Regions from separate parts of the Homo sapiens genome. Here regions 1 and 3 are each linked to region 2. Evidence: fine-mapped expression QTL. A gene starts in region 2. Each other region holds a variant in brackets. All regions are shown on one strand. Distances are between the middles of the regions.

Region 1 (5,227 bases), 34 kb before region 2:
CTGCACTCTAGCCTGGGCCAAAGCACGAGACCCTGTCTCTTAAAAAAAAATTGTCTTTATTAAAATGATTCTCAGTATCCTTCATGCTACTGCAGCTGATTTCCAAAGCTGCCTCATCTTCCGCGCTCTCAACTCTTAATAAACCCATCCAAAGCGCAGCTCTTCTCTTCCAGCAACTCCTTATTTTTATGTTCATATCCAAGTAAATCTTAGCCTTGTCCAGAAGCAAAAGCCCCATGACCACGACTTCAATTCTGCCTCTCTTTTCTGGCCACTGCCTCTGTGTCACCAAACCCCAGGGACAAATTGGCAAAGACAAAGGTGGCTCTGAGAGGAAAAGGGAGGGAGAAAGGGTGTGAAACCCCACACATCATAGTCTTGTTCCTGTTGAAAATGCAGGAATATAAAGCCCAGTACCAGAGCTTCCCATTATTCAGGCCTAGGCTCCTGGTTCCTGGGCTGTCTAGTGGGTGAGGGCCCAGGGCCTGGAGGTGTTTCAGGATCCTCAGGCCTGATTTGGTGGACAGGACCATGTTCAGGGGAAAATGTGGGGATAGGGCTGCATGCTTGCTCTCAGGAGACTGGGCTCTTTTTTCTGAGTGTCCCTGAGAAACCATCCTTAGGTATTGGTACTACTCACAGGGTTGTGCCTAGCTTCCTGGCTTTGGAACTTCATTCACTTCCTCCCACCCTTCCCAGCCCTTCCATTCCCCCTCCCAAAAGGCTGACACCCACTCCTCCTAGAACCCTACCATAACTCACCATCCTACAAGAGCTTCCTTCTGTTTGGGATAGAACTTCGGTGGCCTGCATGCTAGCCATGAAGCCTTACGATGGCCTTTTCCTAACCATAACAACCACTTATTTCCACTTCATTTACTTTACATTTCCCTCTCCTCATAAGATTTCAGCAAACCATATACTTATAAGTCAACTTGCACAGAATCTCCTGCTAGCTTATTTTGGTGAACACAAAACTGAATGCAAAAATCCCCATCCTTCAAAGAATTTGACATTCTAATGTCACCAATTTTTCGACATGCTAATGCCAGCAATTTTTTTTGAAAGTTGAAATAGAACATAATAAGGCAACAAAACGAGACTAAGAGGGTTCTGCACCGTGTTCCAACAATCTTCAGTCCCCTTCACTGTTCATGTCTAAGCACTGAGGCGTTCTAAAGCAGGTCACCTTTTGCCTCAAGGACTTTTCTTGAAATATCATGGTCTTGCTCTGTCGCCCAGGCTGGAGTGCAGTGGCGTGGTCACAGCTCATTGCAGCTTCGACTTCCTGGGCTGAAGCGATCCTCCCATCTCGGCCTGTCAAGTAGCTGGAACCACAGGCGCGCCACTACACCTGGCTAATTTATTTTTATTTTATTTTTTGTAGAGACGGTCTCGCCACATTGCCCAGACTGGTCTGAAAGTCTTGGGCTCAAGAGATCCTCCCGCTTCCGCCTTCCAAAGCGCTGGGATAACAGGCGTGAGCCGCTGCCCGGGCCATCCCTCGAGGAAGTTTCATCAGGTAGACATTAATTCTTTCACGAGGATCACGGATCGAGCTCTTTACTGGAAACCTGCGCCCCGCCTTAGTTCTCCACCTCTTCGTGCGGCTCCAGGCAACTGCCAACAGATGGCGCCCGCCCGCCTATTTCTCTCCTTGCGGCTTTGGGCCTGGAGGGGAGGTGGGGAGAGTCCCAATAGCAGAGGAACTGGTGAGCCCGGGCCAAAATTTCATCTGGCATCCGGAATGCATTAAAAACAACCCACAAATCTGAAGCTCCTCGCAGGAGAGAGAGAGAGAGAGAGAGAGGAGAGAGAGGAGAGAGGAGAGAGGGAGGGAAGAGAGTGACGGAGAAGGAGAGAAAGAGACGGGAGAGAGGAGAGAGAAAGAGAGAGAGAGGAGAGAGAGAAAGAACGAACGAACAGGGAACTTGTAAAACTAAGGGGAAAAGGGCAGAAGAGAGGCAGCAGCGTGGTCCCTGCAAGCGTCCGCTTTCCTGGCCAAGCAGCCCCCAGCACGCCTGCTTTGTGGGGCAGGGCCATGCGGCCCCGAGGAAGGATGCGGTGAGCCAGAGGGTTCCAGACAAAGGAGGGGATCCCCAAGGCTCTGGGCCAGCCAGTCCCTGTTTTACTGGCACCACGGTCCCTCCTAGGCGAGGACGAAGAGGGAAGGGGTGGAGACCTCCACCTTCTCTGCGTGTGGCTGCGTCCCTTTACAGAATGACAGGCCCTTACTTCCGAGGGCGGGGACTAA[TG/G]TGTAAGGCTTAACAGATCCAATTCCAGAAATTATCTGTGTTTTTTTCAATCACCCTCTTGTGCCCCCCCACCCCCCATTAAATTTCATCTTTTATCTTTTTTTGGGCCTTCGTAATGAAAAGTGGTTTTAAAGGTTGACCAGTTTTACTACTTAGTGCCTAACAGGCTGAGTGATTATACCGTTGAAGGAGGTCACAGCGGGAAGGACATGGAGAGAGATGGGGGGTCTGAGGCCTGGGGAGTGAGGTCTGGTTCCCTCTCCTCCCCTTGGAGCCAGAGGGCACCTTCGTGACTAAGAAGGGAGAGGATCTGGCCTTGTGCAGCTCTGCCCACTGAGAGGTAACACCTGTTCTCCAGCTGGGTGGCAGCTCCCTGAATCAGGCCAGTTTGTACTTTTTCACCTAACTCACATGATTTCCACTTCAGTCGCACTACCGCTGGCTGCCCCATTGTGGACAGCTTCATTAACCTCCGTTGCTCCTAAAGGCAGTCTTTTGATGGAAATGAGTGGCGGAAAAGGCTGAGAGCAACCAGGCCAGGCTCAGCCCACTTACTTACTATAGTTAGCCTCTCTGTTATGCCTCACTTACCCCAAGGACTCTCTGAGGAGTGGCCATTAGTCCTACAGCTCCTGAGTGCATATTGTGGCCAGTCCCACAAATGTGAAGTTCTCTTCTTTCCTCCGTGAGTCGTTGGGTCAAATAGAACTCTTGTTAATAGCTCACCAAGTCAGTTAAAGATTGGGAAGGTGGGCATTGTGAATTTGGGATTAAATAATGTCCAGGTGGTTAGAATGGACTTAAAGAGAAATAGAGAGGAAAAGGATCTAGTGGTCATAGTGAATCCCAAGTTGAAATGAGTCAACAGGAAGGGACAGTGATGAACAGGAAGGGACAGTGGGAAAACCCTGACAGAAATGCTTTAGCTACATCCTGTACCTTCCCACTTTTATTAGAAGATGCTTGATTTTTGTTCTAAGAAGGGAAATATGTATTCTAGGTTCAACAAGTTATAAATTCCTTAAGGGCAGACATCTTTTGCATCTCTCACCAGGTTTAAAAATTAATAATTGTGGCCAGGCGCGGTGATTCCCACCTGTAATCCCAGCATTTTGGGGGGCCGAGGTGGGCAGATCATGAGGTCAGGATTCCAAGACCAGCCTGGCCAACATGGCGAAACCCCGTCTACTAAAAATACAAAAATTAGCCTGGTGTGGTGGCGCACGCGTGTAATCCCAGCTACTCAGGAGGCTGAGGCAGGAGAATTGCTTGAACCTGGGAGGCGGAGGTTGCAGTGAGCTGAGATCACGCCATTGCACTCCAGCTCTGGGCGACAGAGCAAGACTCTGTCTCAGGGAAAAAAAAAAAAAAGAGTTTACAAGACATTTTCACACATGATAAATTTTCAGCAAATTCTTAGTGAAAGAATGAATAAGTAAATTATAGAATTAAAGTGATCTCACAAGTTCAAAGAGGTCAAATAGGAAGTCTACCATAATAATAAGCATATATTGCATGGCCTGAATTGTCAACCTTCCATGGCTGAGATCACTCACTTCTCCTCTTTATTTGCTTTCCATGTAACCACCTCTCCTTGGCTTATGTAATTTTTCTCTCCCCCTGATGAGGCAGAGTGAAGTGTTAATAGCTGGGATTTGGAGTCAGGCAAGTCCTAGGTTCGAATCCCAGTTGCTTCAGTGATCTTGACCAAATTGCTTATGTTCTGTTCTTTGTGCAGCAGTTCTGTGTCTATACAATGGTGGAGGGAGTGGGCTCTCCTGGGACAGCTATAAGGGTTAAGTAGGATGTGGAGGTGATAGAGCCTTGCAAAGTGTTCCAGGGTGGGCTGGTCATATTTCATAATATGCGGCACAGCTTAACACTTTCTGCCCATTACTTCCAATACAAATTGGTTAAAACAGGTGGTAACATGGTGGGTTGATATGTGGGACAGTTTTTAAAAAATCAGAATGGGCTGGGTGTGGTGGCTCACACCTGTAATCCCAGCACTTTGGGAGGCCTAGAGGCAGATCACGAGGTCAGGAGTTCAAGACCAGCCTCCTAACCAATATGGTGAAACCCTGTCTCTACTAAAAATACAAAAATTAGCTGACTGTGGTGGCGTACACCTGTAGTCCCAGCTACTTGGGAGGCTGAAGCAGGAGAATCGCTTGAACCCAGGAGGTTGAAGTTGCAGTGAGCCAAGATCGTGCCACTGCACTCCAGCCTGGGCGACAGAGCGAGATTCCACTTCAAAAAAAAAAAAAAAAAAAAAATCAGAATAGAAGCAGAGAAGGCATGCAGCTCCTTCTTTCCTGGAGCTGGGGCAATAGCCCAGGCTGGATCCCTGAACAAAATGTGGGCTCCGATCCTCAGAGGTTTTTCTCAGAAGGAGAGTTAATAGCCACCAGAGCAGGGAAGGTCTGTGATAGGGTTCGGGTGGCCTCTGTGATGTTCACAAGCATCCTGGCATGTGGCAGAGACCGGCTTTTCATTTGTTAAAGGAGACTCCTGGGGCACCTGCATCTCTGAGGGCAAATTACAACCCCACATATCCTAGAGGAAGATTTGTCATCCAGCCACCTGGAAAAAACACTCAGCAGTGTTGAAGACACACAAAACTACCCAGAATTTCTTTGGGGGCTTGAGTCATCACATTTCTGAGCTACTTTTACGGTGGGGAAACTGAGGCACTGGGTGATTTGCTGGAGGTCAAAGTTATGGCAGGAGCAACACAAGAATGCATGATCTGACAGAGTCTGTTTTCTTGCCCATGGGCAGACTCTGATCACGTTAAAAGGGGAGCCAGAACCGAGGTTGTTCACCCACTGGCTTAGAATATGATGCGGTGACAGTGGGGACGGTACCCTGGAGACACCCACTGAGAGTTTTTCTACCTGGGTAAATTAGGTCCGTTTGGTGTGAAGAGGACAGGTGGACTCCTTAGAAGGCGGCCCAAGGGGCTAGGGCAT
Region 2 (5,227 bases):
TCGTGGCCTTTGTGTTCCTCAGAGCATCCTCTGTGCTTTGGCTTCTGAGGCCAATTGCCTGTTCGTTTCCTACCTCCTTTTGCGTTCCTGAGAGATAATTGGATTGGCCCAGGTCCTCTTTTTTGTTCTAGGCTGTAGGTCAGAGGTCAGCCGGTGGACTACCTGGTTTGATCATATGTCCTCCTTTGACTTACTCAGCTGGAGGTAAAGGGCCAAGGGGACCTCATGAGGAAGGGGTGATGTGTGCAGCTGCTCAACACCCTGAAAGGCAATTTGGGGACCAAGAGGGAGAGTTAATAAACTGACCTAACGCATTGAGTTTTTTCTGTGTTTTTTTATTTTTTCATATAAAACTTGAGCGTGGAGGCCAAAGGGATACACCTGAGTCCATTTGGCCAGTTATTTGGGGTTCTGGGGCAAAAGGAAGAGCAGCCAATGTAAGTTGGGTAGGGGTGGGGGCTCTGGGCAGGCTCACCATGGATTTCAGGGGGATTCTCAGGTGGGGAGAGCTGCCTCGTGGCCCCTTCTTAGTGGTGTACGTTCTGGAATTTGCACTTTGATTTTTCTACTTATGAATTGTGTATCCGTGGGCAACTTACTGAACTGTGTGCCTCAGTTTCATCACTTTGTAAAATGGGGATTAGAGTAGTGGAAACTGCCTCGAAGGTATTCCTGGGAGTTTTGAGCCCAGAATAAGCTAGTGTGTGAAGAGTTGAGAGCAGTACCTGGCATGGGGTGTGTGCATGGGTGACCTGGAGCCAACTCTGGAACCCCAGCTTTTTAATTCATTCTGCCTTGAATGAAGGGGCTGGCTGCACTTAGTACCTGCCTGTGGGGAGGTTACCAAGCAGCCCAGTGCTGAGGCCAGCAAGATACACTGAGGGACCCCAGAAGCACTGAGGTCAAGTCCCTGAGTCCCATGGGGCATCTCTGGGTTGGTCAGCACTGGGGTCACATTGCATGTTTGCTCAGCTTGCCCCTTCTCAGTGCCAGTAGAAGCCCATGGTGAGCCCAGATACAGGATCTGTTGACTCACGGGGAATTTGCTGCCCACAGAGGAGGGAGAAATGCACCTCCCCAAAGCCAACAATCAAAGGCCAGGCAAGCCCTGTGGGAGGAAAATAACTTGGGCTACAGATTTTCTTTTCTGGGCTTGGAGTCTTGCCATGGACAACACAGAAACAGACATGATTAGCATCATGGCTTCCGGAAACACTGTGAGTGCGCACTAGCAGGTGGTGGGCTGATGTCACTCTCAAATGGCTTTCTCGAGTCCGAGGGTCTGGCTCCCTGCCGGGCCCTGGCCCATTGCACATCAGCGCTAGGTATAAGCAGCTCAGAGAGTCACTTCAAGCTGCAGAAGACTTCTGGGGTGAGTCTTTGGAGGTTCTTGTGGAACCACAGGGGAGGTCCCCTGCTCATCCGCTACACTTCACACCTGGCCTGTGCACTCAAAGATGTCCACTGTCTTCCCCAGACTTGCTGGGAGAGAGAGCAGAACCTTGTCAGACTGGCCCACCCCAACTCCCCCCCATCCCCCTCACCTGTGCATTTCCCGTAGCATTTCCAGACGCCCAGGCTGTCCCGCACCTCCGTGACTTTGCTCAGATCCTTCCCTTGTCTAGAACTTGTTTGAAGAACTGAATGGAGATACTCAGGGCTCAGGGACACTGAGCCACAAAATAGGGGCCCATGGAAAGGTTGAAGGCATGGCTCCGCTGACACGGGAGCTCCAGAGCGAGAATGAATTCAGGGAGTTTAGGGCTGGAGTTGAAGAGGAACTAGAGCCTGGAGAGAGGGGAGGATAGAGAAAGGCTTTTTGAGAACCGCAGCAATGAGGGCTCTGCCTGAGGCTCTAGGTACTGACTCGTGGGCAGTGAGGAGAGGTAGATTTTTGTTGGGGATCCACTTGATGTATGTTTTCTTACAACTAAATGATAAAACTGAGGCTGAAACACAGGTGTTTTCTGCCTGGCCTTTTTCTAGAATGCACCTCTCTCTGAAGATTATAGAGAACTATGAAGAAAAGGAGATCGTGGGAAATATATGATTGAGTCAGTATGATTTGGAGGAAGCTCAAGTGCTTGCTGTGGTTGCAGAGAAGTGAGGGGACTTTACATTCCTGGCTGGACAGGTTGAACTCTGGGATTGGAGAGGTGGTGGGGGAGTGGAGAGGAGCAGAAGGAACAGACACAGGGAGAGACATTTCAAAGGATTGTCAACAGGGCATGATGATAACACAGGGAGAGCAAGTCCAGCCTGTCTCCTGGTGCTGCCCCGAGTTGATGACTGCAATTAAACTGCCAGACTTTACAGCCTGCTCTGCACTGTGTCCTCCTGGCATCTTGGGGACTTTTTCACGGTTGGGGCCACAGGGGAGGTTAGAAGCTGCTCGCTCTCTCCATTGCCAAGCACTGGCCGGTCAATGGAGTTGGGGAGAAGGAGGCTAATTCTCAACAGCCTGTTAGTGACAGCCATTCTCTCTCCAGCTTATCTAAAGAGGATTTTATTTCAGAAGAAGGCTGAGAGCTTGTTAGAAAGGCAAGTTCTTGGGCCCCACCCCACATATACTGAATCAGAGACCCTGGGAGTGGGACCCAGCAATCTGTCTTAATAGACCTTCTAGGAGATTCTGGCACTAAGGAAAGAGACCACAGGTCTTGTCTATCTCTGTAGTTGGCTGCGTCTGGGCCAGAGTAACTGCTTGTTGAAATGATCAGAGATCTCAAATGAGGTCATGCATGTTGGGGTGTGTGTGTGTGCATGTGTGTGTGTTGTGTATCTTTATGTGTGTATGTGTTTGGTCTAGGGTCCAGCACATAGTAGGTGTTCACTCTTGGGGGTGGGAATAATCACTCTAATGTCCGTGTTTGAGGACTGCATTGCTGGTGACCGCTGAGCCTGCAGAGGAGGAAGAGAGCAGGGCAGAAGATTCAGGAGGGGGTGCATGGCAACTTCTGATGTCACAGTGCCCCCCTTCACTCCTGACTTCTGGCTCATGGGTCACTTTGGGGCAGGGGCAAGAGGATGGTTAGCTGCAGCAAAGAGAGAGCCAAAGAGAAGTGGGATTGAGAGCACAGGGGACAGCTGGAGACAAAATATAAACGCCGGGCAGGGGAACAGCCAAGATAGTGCAGGAAGGATGGGGAATCACAGAAACTTCTCAGGTAACAGTCTGGGCCAGAACACTGGGTGTCCCCAGAGAGGGAAGTCGAGGGTGAAAGTGAAAAGGCTCACACTCAACTTCCAGGAGAAGGTCAGGTCCTTCATCAAAGAATAATCCTGCCATTAAAGGGTCCCCAGAGTCCCCAGCATTACTTCCCTTAAGTGGATCCCAATCCTGGTCACCCAATCCCCTCAGGACTTTGTAAAACGTACTGATGCCCAACCCTTGCCAACAAGCTCGTCCCATTCCTAGGATTCTGATTTACTTTGTCTGCAGAGGGCTTGAGCTCAGGTATGTCTATAATGACAGCCAGGTGATTCTATTGTACACTCAGGGCTGACCACTCTACTTAAGCAAAACACACACACACAAAATATACCCCCGTTCCCCCCCATCCCCTGGGGGTGATGGGTTGGGGATGAGGGTGATGATGTTCCCACAGATGCATTACCTCTCCACAGAGCTCAGGACCAAAGGAATGTTTAGCCAGAACTGGTAAATACCTTTAAAAAATTATTAAGCACCTATAGAAACCTATAGGGACAAAGGTGACTAAGAGGATTTTTACAAAACAATAATAATCAAGTCACTTATTTAAAAATAATTAATCATGCTTGTAATCCCACCACTTAAGGAGGCTGAGGCAGGAGGATTGTTTGAGGCCGAGAACTCAAGACCAGCCTAGGCAACATAGCAAGACCCCGTTTCTACAAAAATAAAAATAAAAATAAATTAGCTGGGCATTGGTGTGCACCTGTAGTCCCAGCTACTCTGGAGGCTGAGGCAGGAGGGCCCCTTGAGTCCAGGTGTGTGTCTGTATTGAGTGTGTGTCTGTGTGAGCCCAGGAGTTTGAGGCTGCAGTGAGCCATGATCGTGCCACTGCACTCCAGCCTGGGTGTCAGTGAGACTGTCTCTATAAAAGTAAAAATTAAAAAAAGTAATTTAGAACAAGGAATAAAAGACACCAGTGAATGAAACAAAAAATTAGTAAGAAACCTTGCGATCCATGAATGCACCTTGGTGTAGATAGGGGTGGGGAGAAGAGAACAGAAGAGACTCGTTTCTGCAGATGAGGCAGCCCTTCCCTTCTCCCCATCTGGGTGGAAGCTGGCCCAGCGCCCAGGCTCCCACCCCAGGCAGTGTTTCTGGAGGCCTGAGCCCGAAGCCCACTGTTTGTGCTGGAAGCTCTTGCTTTACACTTGTTTGAGCTACATTGAGTCAGTATGAGAGAGGCAGATAGGTGACGCAGGTTAAGAACATGGGCAGCCGAGTCCCTGGGTTCAAATCCAGACTCTGTCACTTGTCAGTTCACCCACTGGCCTGGGTCAGGGAGCTGACCTGGGTCCCAGGTCGCAGGCTTCCTCCAGGCTTCCTGGTAGGCTCTGCCCTCCCTCCCCCTCCCTTTCCCTCCCTCTCCCTCCCTTTCTCTCCCTCCTTCAGGGATGTCTTCTAAGTGCTTACCACTTGTGCAGGGCACAAAGAGGGTTTCCCCACCAGCTGTAGAATGCTCAGGCCCTGTAACAACTGGATCTGCCCCCAGGTGCAGCAACTCTAGGATCCTCTGTTGCCCTCCTGCTGCTACCACCCTCAGGGGTCTGGAGTCCTCACGATGCGCGCTGCATGTCCTCCCCACGGTGGATGGCCAGGCTCCCTCCCCCTCTTCCCTGACCACAGCAAGAGCCCCTTGGCTGCCATATTGGAAGGCGTTAGCATGCGTGTCTGTGCATGTGTAGGCATATGTGTCTCCGTGTTTGTGATATGACTGTGTGTTTGTGTGTTTTGTGTGTTGTGTGTATCTTTGTGCGTGTGTGTCTGTGTTGTATGAATGTCTTGGTGTGTATCTCTGTGCTGGTGTATGTGTGTCTGTGTGTTGGTGTGTGTGTTTGTACCTAAGTGTCTTTGTTGTGTGTGTTTGTGTTGGTGTGTCTGGTATTGGTGTGGGTCTGTGTTGTGTGTGTCTGTGTTTGTATGTCTGGTGTTGATGTGTATCTCCGTTATGTGTGTCTGTGTGTTGGTGTGTCTGGTACTGGTGTATGTCTGTGTTGGTGTGTGTTGTGTGTG
Region 3 (5,227 bases), 110 kb before region 2:
AGGTGTGGTCCTTGTCCTGGGGGCACTGATGCTGTAGTGGTGGTCAGTTCGTGGCCAAGGCAAGCATGTGTGGCACAGCAGGGAACACGGGGCAGTCAGGGGCACCTAACCTAGTTTATGCTGGGTGGTGGACAGGGGGTGTTTCTAGGAAGAAGTGATGTGTAAACTGAGACCCGATGGATGGGTGGGAGATGGGCGGAAAGGGTGGAGAAGAGAGTTGCAGGCAGTGGGAACAGCGTGTGAGAAGGCCAAAGAGGAGAAGAATGGCAAGTTTATGTTCCACATATCTGGAGAGTAGAATGAGGGTGGGAGGTGTCAAGAGAGCACAGAAATTAGGAAGGCCACATACAGAGACCTCTGGGCAAATGCAGACTCAGTGAAGTCTTCCAGATTTTAAAAAGTGGAAGAAAATGATCAGATCTGCTTTTTAGAAGGACTACTCTGCCTGCCATGTGGAAGTCAGCAAAGAGAGACAAGCATTTGTTTAATTCACCTCACCAAGAGAGGCTCAAGTTAGGCATTTTAAAGGAAGAAGAATCGTGGGCACACCACCACATAATTTTTATCAAATGCTTCGTTGAGAGAAACAGCCTTCAGCTAGCTTGTATCTTTAATCTATCTTCCAGATTTCCTAAAATGCATTGGTGGAGCACATTAGAAGCAGAGAGCGGGCCCTCCTCTCCCACTGAACGGCTCTTTGGTCTAATGACATGAGGGTGATCATGGTTTGCACTTTAAGTTCTATTATTCTTGGCTCCACTTTGTCTCTTCTTAGTCTTCTTTTTCTGGACTATTTTGTCACATTTTACATATATTTGCAAGTTACTTGAACTCTTGTTTGAAATAAGGCAGAGGAAAAAAGTTAAATAAAGGGGTAACTAGAGGATTTTCTTTAGAATATTTGTATACAATGAGACATCAGTAAAAAAAAAGTAAAGGACTCTCTTTGGAACTGTTAAGTAGAAAGAGGACAAGCAATAATAATGGTTTTGGAATAAAGAGAGAATATATCAATTAATATGTGGGTTATTAAGTTTGATTTGCCATGAAATCTTTAAATATCATGGTTATATTCAGGTTGTTGAAGTTTAGCTGTTTTAATCAAGAGATCTATCTTTTAGATAGAAAAAGGTTAGAAAAGAGTGTTCATTTTTCATCTCAGTTAAACACAACTATGATTTTCTGCCTTAGTGCTCATAAAATGTGGTCAGAGCTAAATCTCAGAGATCTCAAACACTATTATGTCAAAGACTGATTTCTTGTTATTTTAGGTCAATTAGTCTATATACTCTTTCTCTTAATCATACCATTCAGCCTTTGATTAAAAAAACAAAAACCATCGGCTCTTCCCATTCCTAGATGGATTTTTGAAAGCATCCCAAGCCTGGAGACGCACACAGGCACACACACATACACACCTGAGTTTTCTCCTTTCATAATTTATTCAATATTTAAATTTTTTGTGAAATATGTTTTTTTTATTAGTCCTTTTTCTCCTTTTTATCATTTAAATTCCTTAGCAGTTTGCTTCCAGTTCAAGTGTTACTCTGACATCTGGTTTCTAGAAGCAAGATGAGGAGAAGAAAGGCTAAGCTGGCCTTCTTGGGTGTCTCTGGGCTCAGTTACCTTAGGAAAGAGGGCCTCATTGGAATTTCTGGGTAGATCCTCCACACCATGATTCTAAGTGTGGCTCCTGGACCATCAGCATCACCTGGGAACTTGTTAGGAATCCACGTGGTCTGGAAGCTCTCTGAGATTTGATAACTACTATACCATTACCAATGTGATGCTGGTCCCCATCTGGCCAAGCTACATATGCTGAGCCAACATAAGCCGCTCCACTCCAGTGCTGACTGCGGCCGGCCTGGTTAGGTCATCCACTTTCAGTTGTCTTTCATTATATATCTCTTGGCATGTTCTAGTGGAAGAATAGAGGGCTGTGAACTAGCTCTGTTATCAATTAGCAGAGGAACTTTGGATATATCCTTAGACTTCTGACTTACCTGCACTATCTACTTTGTTTTAATTTAATCATACAGCTACAAGTGTTTTGATCATTAAAAGTACTTAAAGGGCAAGATGAAGCAAGTGTGGTAAAAGTCTTGATAGTTGTTGATTCTGGGCCATGAGTATGTTGAGGGTCCACTGTAGAGTGAGCTCTACTATTCCATCTGTTGGGATTTTTCATAAGAAATATGTTTTAAAAATACTTTAATACTTTTTATTATTAGTGCT[A/T]AATTCTGGTTTCCTCATGGAACCATAACTAAGCATGCTGAGTAGGATCAGGTGGTCTGCATTCTAGTTCTGACTCTGAAGTTAACTAGTTATTTAAAAGTGGGTAACTTATTTAACCTCTCTGGTCCTTGGTTTCCTCAACTGAAAGGGTGTATTATGGCTCTTTCAATGGCAAGACTGAAACTTTCAAGTCAAACTTGCTTAGGTAAAGGCTCAATAAAAAGACAATAGGGAAGGCGGGTTTCTACTTGTTTAGCCGTGTGATCTTGAGCAAATTATTTAATCTGTTGGCCTTAGATTCTTCATCTGTAAGATGGGAGGTATTATAGAGTTGTCTTAAGAATTAAATACAATGATGTAAATAAAGCACTTAAAAAGTGCTTGTTAAATGAGCACATAGTGTTGACTTGTTCATTCATTCATTCATTAAAATTTCTCATTGCCTAGATAGCCACTATGCTAAGTGTAGCTGTACAGCAGTGAACAAAACAGCAAGAGTTTAGTCTAGAAAGGAAGACAGACCTTAAACAAACACATGTAACTACCGTGAACTCTCCAATTGTAAAATCAGCTACAAGAAAGAACAGATGAAATAAGACAGAATAATTTAAATAGGAAGGACCTATTTAAATAGAGCTGGAGGGAGGGGCTGATAAACTTGCCATAAATTGTTTCCCCTGATTTATTTTGTCAGACTTATAAAGACATGAATATACCACTATTTTTATCTTCAATTTTAATTTTACTTACAATTTAATTTTATTATACCAAATTACAAAAAGTGGTATATTGAAAAGCTAGATTGATCACATACAAAACATGTTTTTTAAACGTTGGTGCTCTTGCACTGCTGCAACAGTAGCTGTAATGGCCTTTTATTAAGAACAGAGGAATTAATAATCTCTGTGAGTGATTCTTGCTGGATTGAATTTATATAAGAACAATCTGAAATAGAGTTGAACAAGGTGTGATAATATTGCAAAAAAAGTTCTAATTTTCAACAACACAGAATAAATGTGTGAATAAGAAAAACAGCACTATTTGATGGGGGTGGTCAGAAAAAGACTAATTTTCTTGAACAAAAAAATTCTTTTATATTCATTCACTCACGCATGCAAATCGGTTCATGGTTCATGCTGAGGGTTGAATGATGATTTATTTCAAAACTCATATACAAAACTGAATTACATTTTAAATTAAGATGTCTTTCTACTGAGCATCACTGCTTGAGATTTTTCTACCTCTGCCTTTCCTGCCCAAGGCTACTGTAGAAAAGAAACTGATGGATTGAGAGTGGGGAAAAATTGGTCCACACATTTCTATGAATTATTTTTTTCTCCTTTTTAAATATAACATTGTTTTGTTTACTAAACATCAGCCCCTACATAGCTCTACGAAAGTATAATTTTCTACAGAAATTAAGAACAAATAAGAGAGAAACAAGCTTTAATTTGGTGCCTATTTATTGCACTTAATAAATGTAATTTAAATTACCTGACTTTTAAATAACTTCCTGGAAAAATGTGGCCTTTCTGTTAAGTAATGTCTCAGAGAAGCCTATGAAATGTTAAGTCAAGAAAGCTTTATATTTTGAGCAGCTCTGCAGGTAATTAGTTTAGACAAAAATTAATTTCATACTTCTTGGTCATTCTTCCACAATAAATGACTTTGAAATTACAAAATAAAATATCCTTTCTTCAAAAACAAAAGAAAATGCAAAACCTTAATCAAATCAAGACAATTTAACTTTAATTTCCCGTGTAAATCCCACATTGGAGCTTGGAAATGAGTTTCTGGAGAAAGCCTCTACAGAAAACTGTTTTGAAAATGTCTCCCCAGAATCTTATTTAGGAGTTTTCTATTTCTGAACATGTCTCAAGTTATAGATATTGTAGAGTGGCAGATGACTGATGTAAATTCAGAACTTAAGGAAATTGTGAAGAAAATGGGAAAACAAAACCTATTTTAAAAGAAAATTAAATTTTAAAACATGTTTAAAAGAAATGCAAAGAATGTAAGAAGAAAATATATTTGGCATAATTACATTCAGAACGTGGAGATTGTGGTTTCACACACACAGACACCTTTTTATTTATTTATTTATTTATTTATTTTAAGAAATGGGGTCCCATCTCTAAAAAATGCTCAAACTCTTGGTGTCAAGTGATTCTCCCACCTCAGCCTCCTGAGTAGCTGCGATTATAGGCATGCATCATGATGTTCGGTGCAGAGACTGTGGTATTATATTAATAATTTTTTTCAAGGAAGAAAACAAACCAGATCTACACTGAATGAGTTTTGAAAGCTGACTGAAAGAATCCTGTTAATCTAGAAGGAAGAGAAGAAAGATTGCCTATAAAAGAAAAAAGAAAAAAATACCAAAATGAATCTCCCTCATTGCTGACCACTGAGATTCAGCCTTCTTATTCAGAGGGGAGTACGTGGTGACCCCTGAATTATGCTACACCAATTCATCTTAAATTAAGGGTAATTTGTACAAAGACTTAGGAATTTTTAAGGAGGAGTGATTCCTATTGTCCCAGCTACGAAAATCAGAGTTTCCAGCATTGTAGTCCAATCTCTTAGTCTGTTTTTCTAATTTCTTGAGGGCAGGGACCAACTACCGAATCCCTCCATTACTCCTGGATCCCATAACACCCAATGCCTGCCACGTGACAGACACATACCTTTCCTTTCTCCTGATTGAGCCAGATAGTTGAATTCTCTGATCTGCCTCCTTATTTTTAATTTATAGGACTCTACTTAAAAAATAGCTTTGTTCACCTGCACCAAATAGGGTCAATGAATTTTAAAGAGTCTTTGAAAAGCTTAAATAAAACACAATTTATAAAGAATGAAGCTGGGAAATAAAACTATCCATCTCTGCTGCTTTGGAGACTGGCAGCTGCGTGCACGTGCAGCTACCCGGAGGTATAGTGCTGACCTCTTACTCCATCTCCTTACCTGCCCCTTGGGACCAGGACCTTTGGCC

Evidence for each region. PIP is the estimated chance that this variant, and not a neighbour inherited with it, causes the effect.
Region 1: its variant is fine-mapped to the expression of CDRT4 in whole blood (TOPMed, PIP above 0.99). The same link has a PIP of 0.9 or more in spleen and testis.
Region 3: its variant is fine-mapped to the expression of CDRT4 in whole blood (TOPMed, PIP 0.99).

The regions. Positions count from the first base shown.
Region 1 is chr17:15,499,393-15,504,619 of GRCh38, reverse strand. All of the region lies in intron 4 of TVP23C-CDRT4 (TVP23C-CDRT4 readthrough), which reads left to right. It also overlaps a transcript of TVP23C not described here. Among named protein-coding and RNA genes, the nearest start is that of CDRT3, 31 kb to the right of the region's middle. The variant TG/G (reference allele first, on the strand shown) is at 2,255.
Region 2 is chr17:15,465,400-15,470,626 of GRCh38, reverse strand. CDRT4 (CMT1A duplicated region transcript 4) reads left to right here and starts at 3,006. Exons shown (of 4, transcript NM_001204477.2): 1 at 3,006-3,167. All of the region lies in intron 4 of TVP23C-CDRT4 (TVP23C-CDRT4 readthrough), which reads left to right. It overlaps CDRT3 (CMT1A duplicated region transcript 3), which reads left to right. Exons shown (of 1, transcript NR_146601.1): 1 at 1-316.
Region 3 is chr17:15,578,269-15,583,495 of GRCh38, reverse strand. It overlaps a transcript of FBXW10B not described here. Among named protein-coding and RNA genes, the nearest start is that of TVP23C-CDRT4, 17 kb to the right of the region's middle. The variant A/T (reference allele first, on the strand shown) is at 2,236.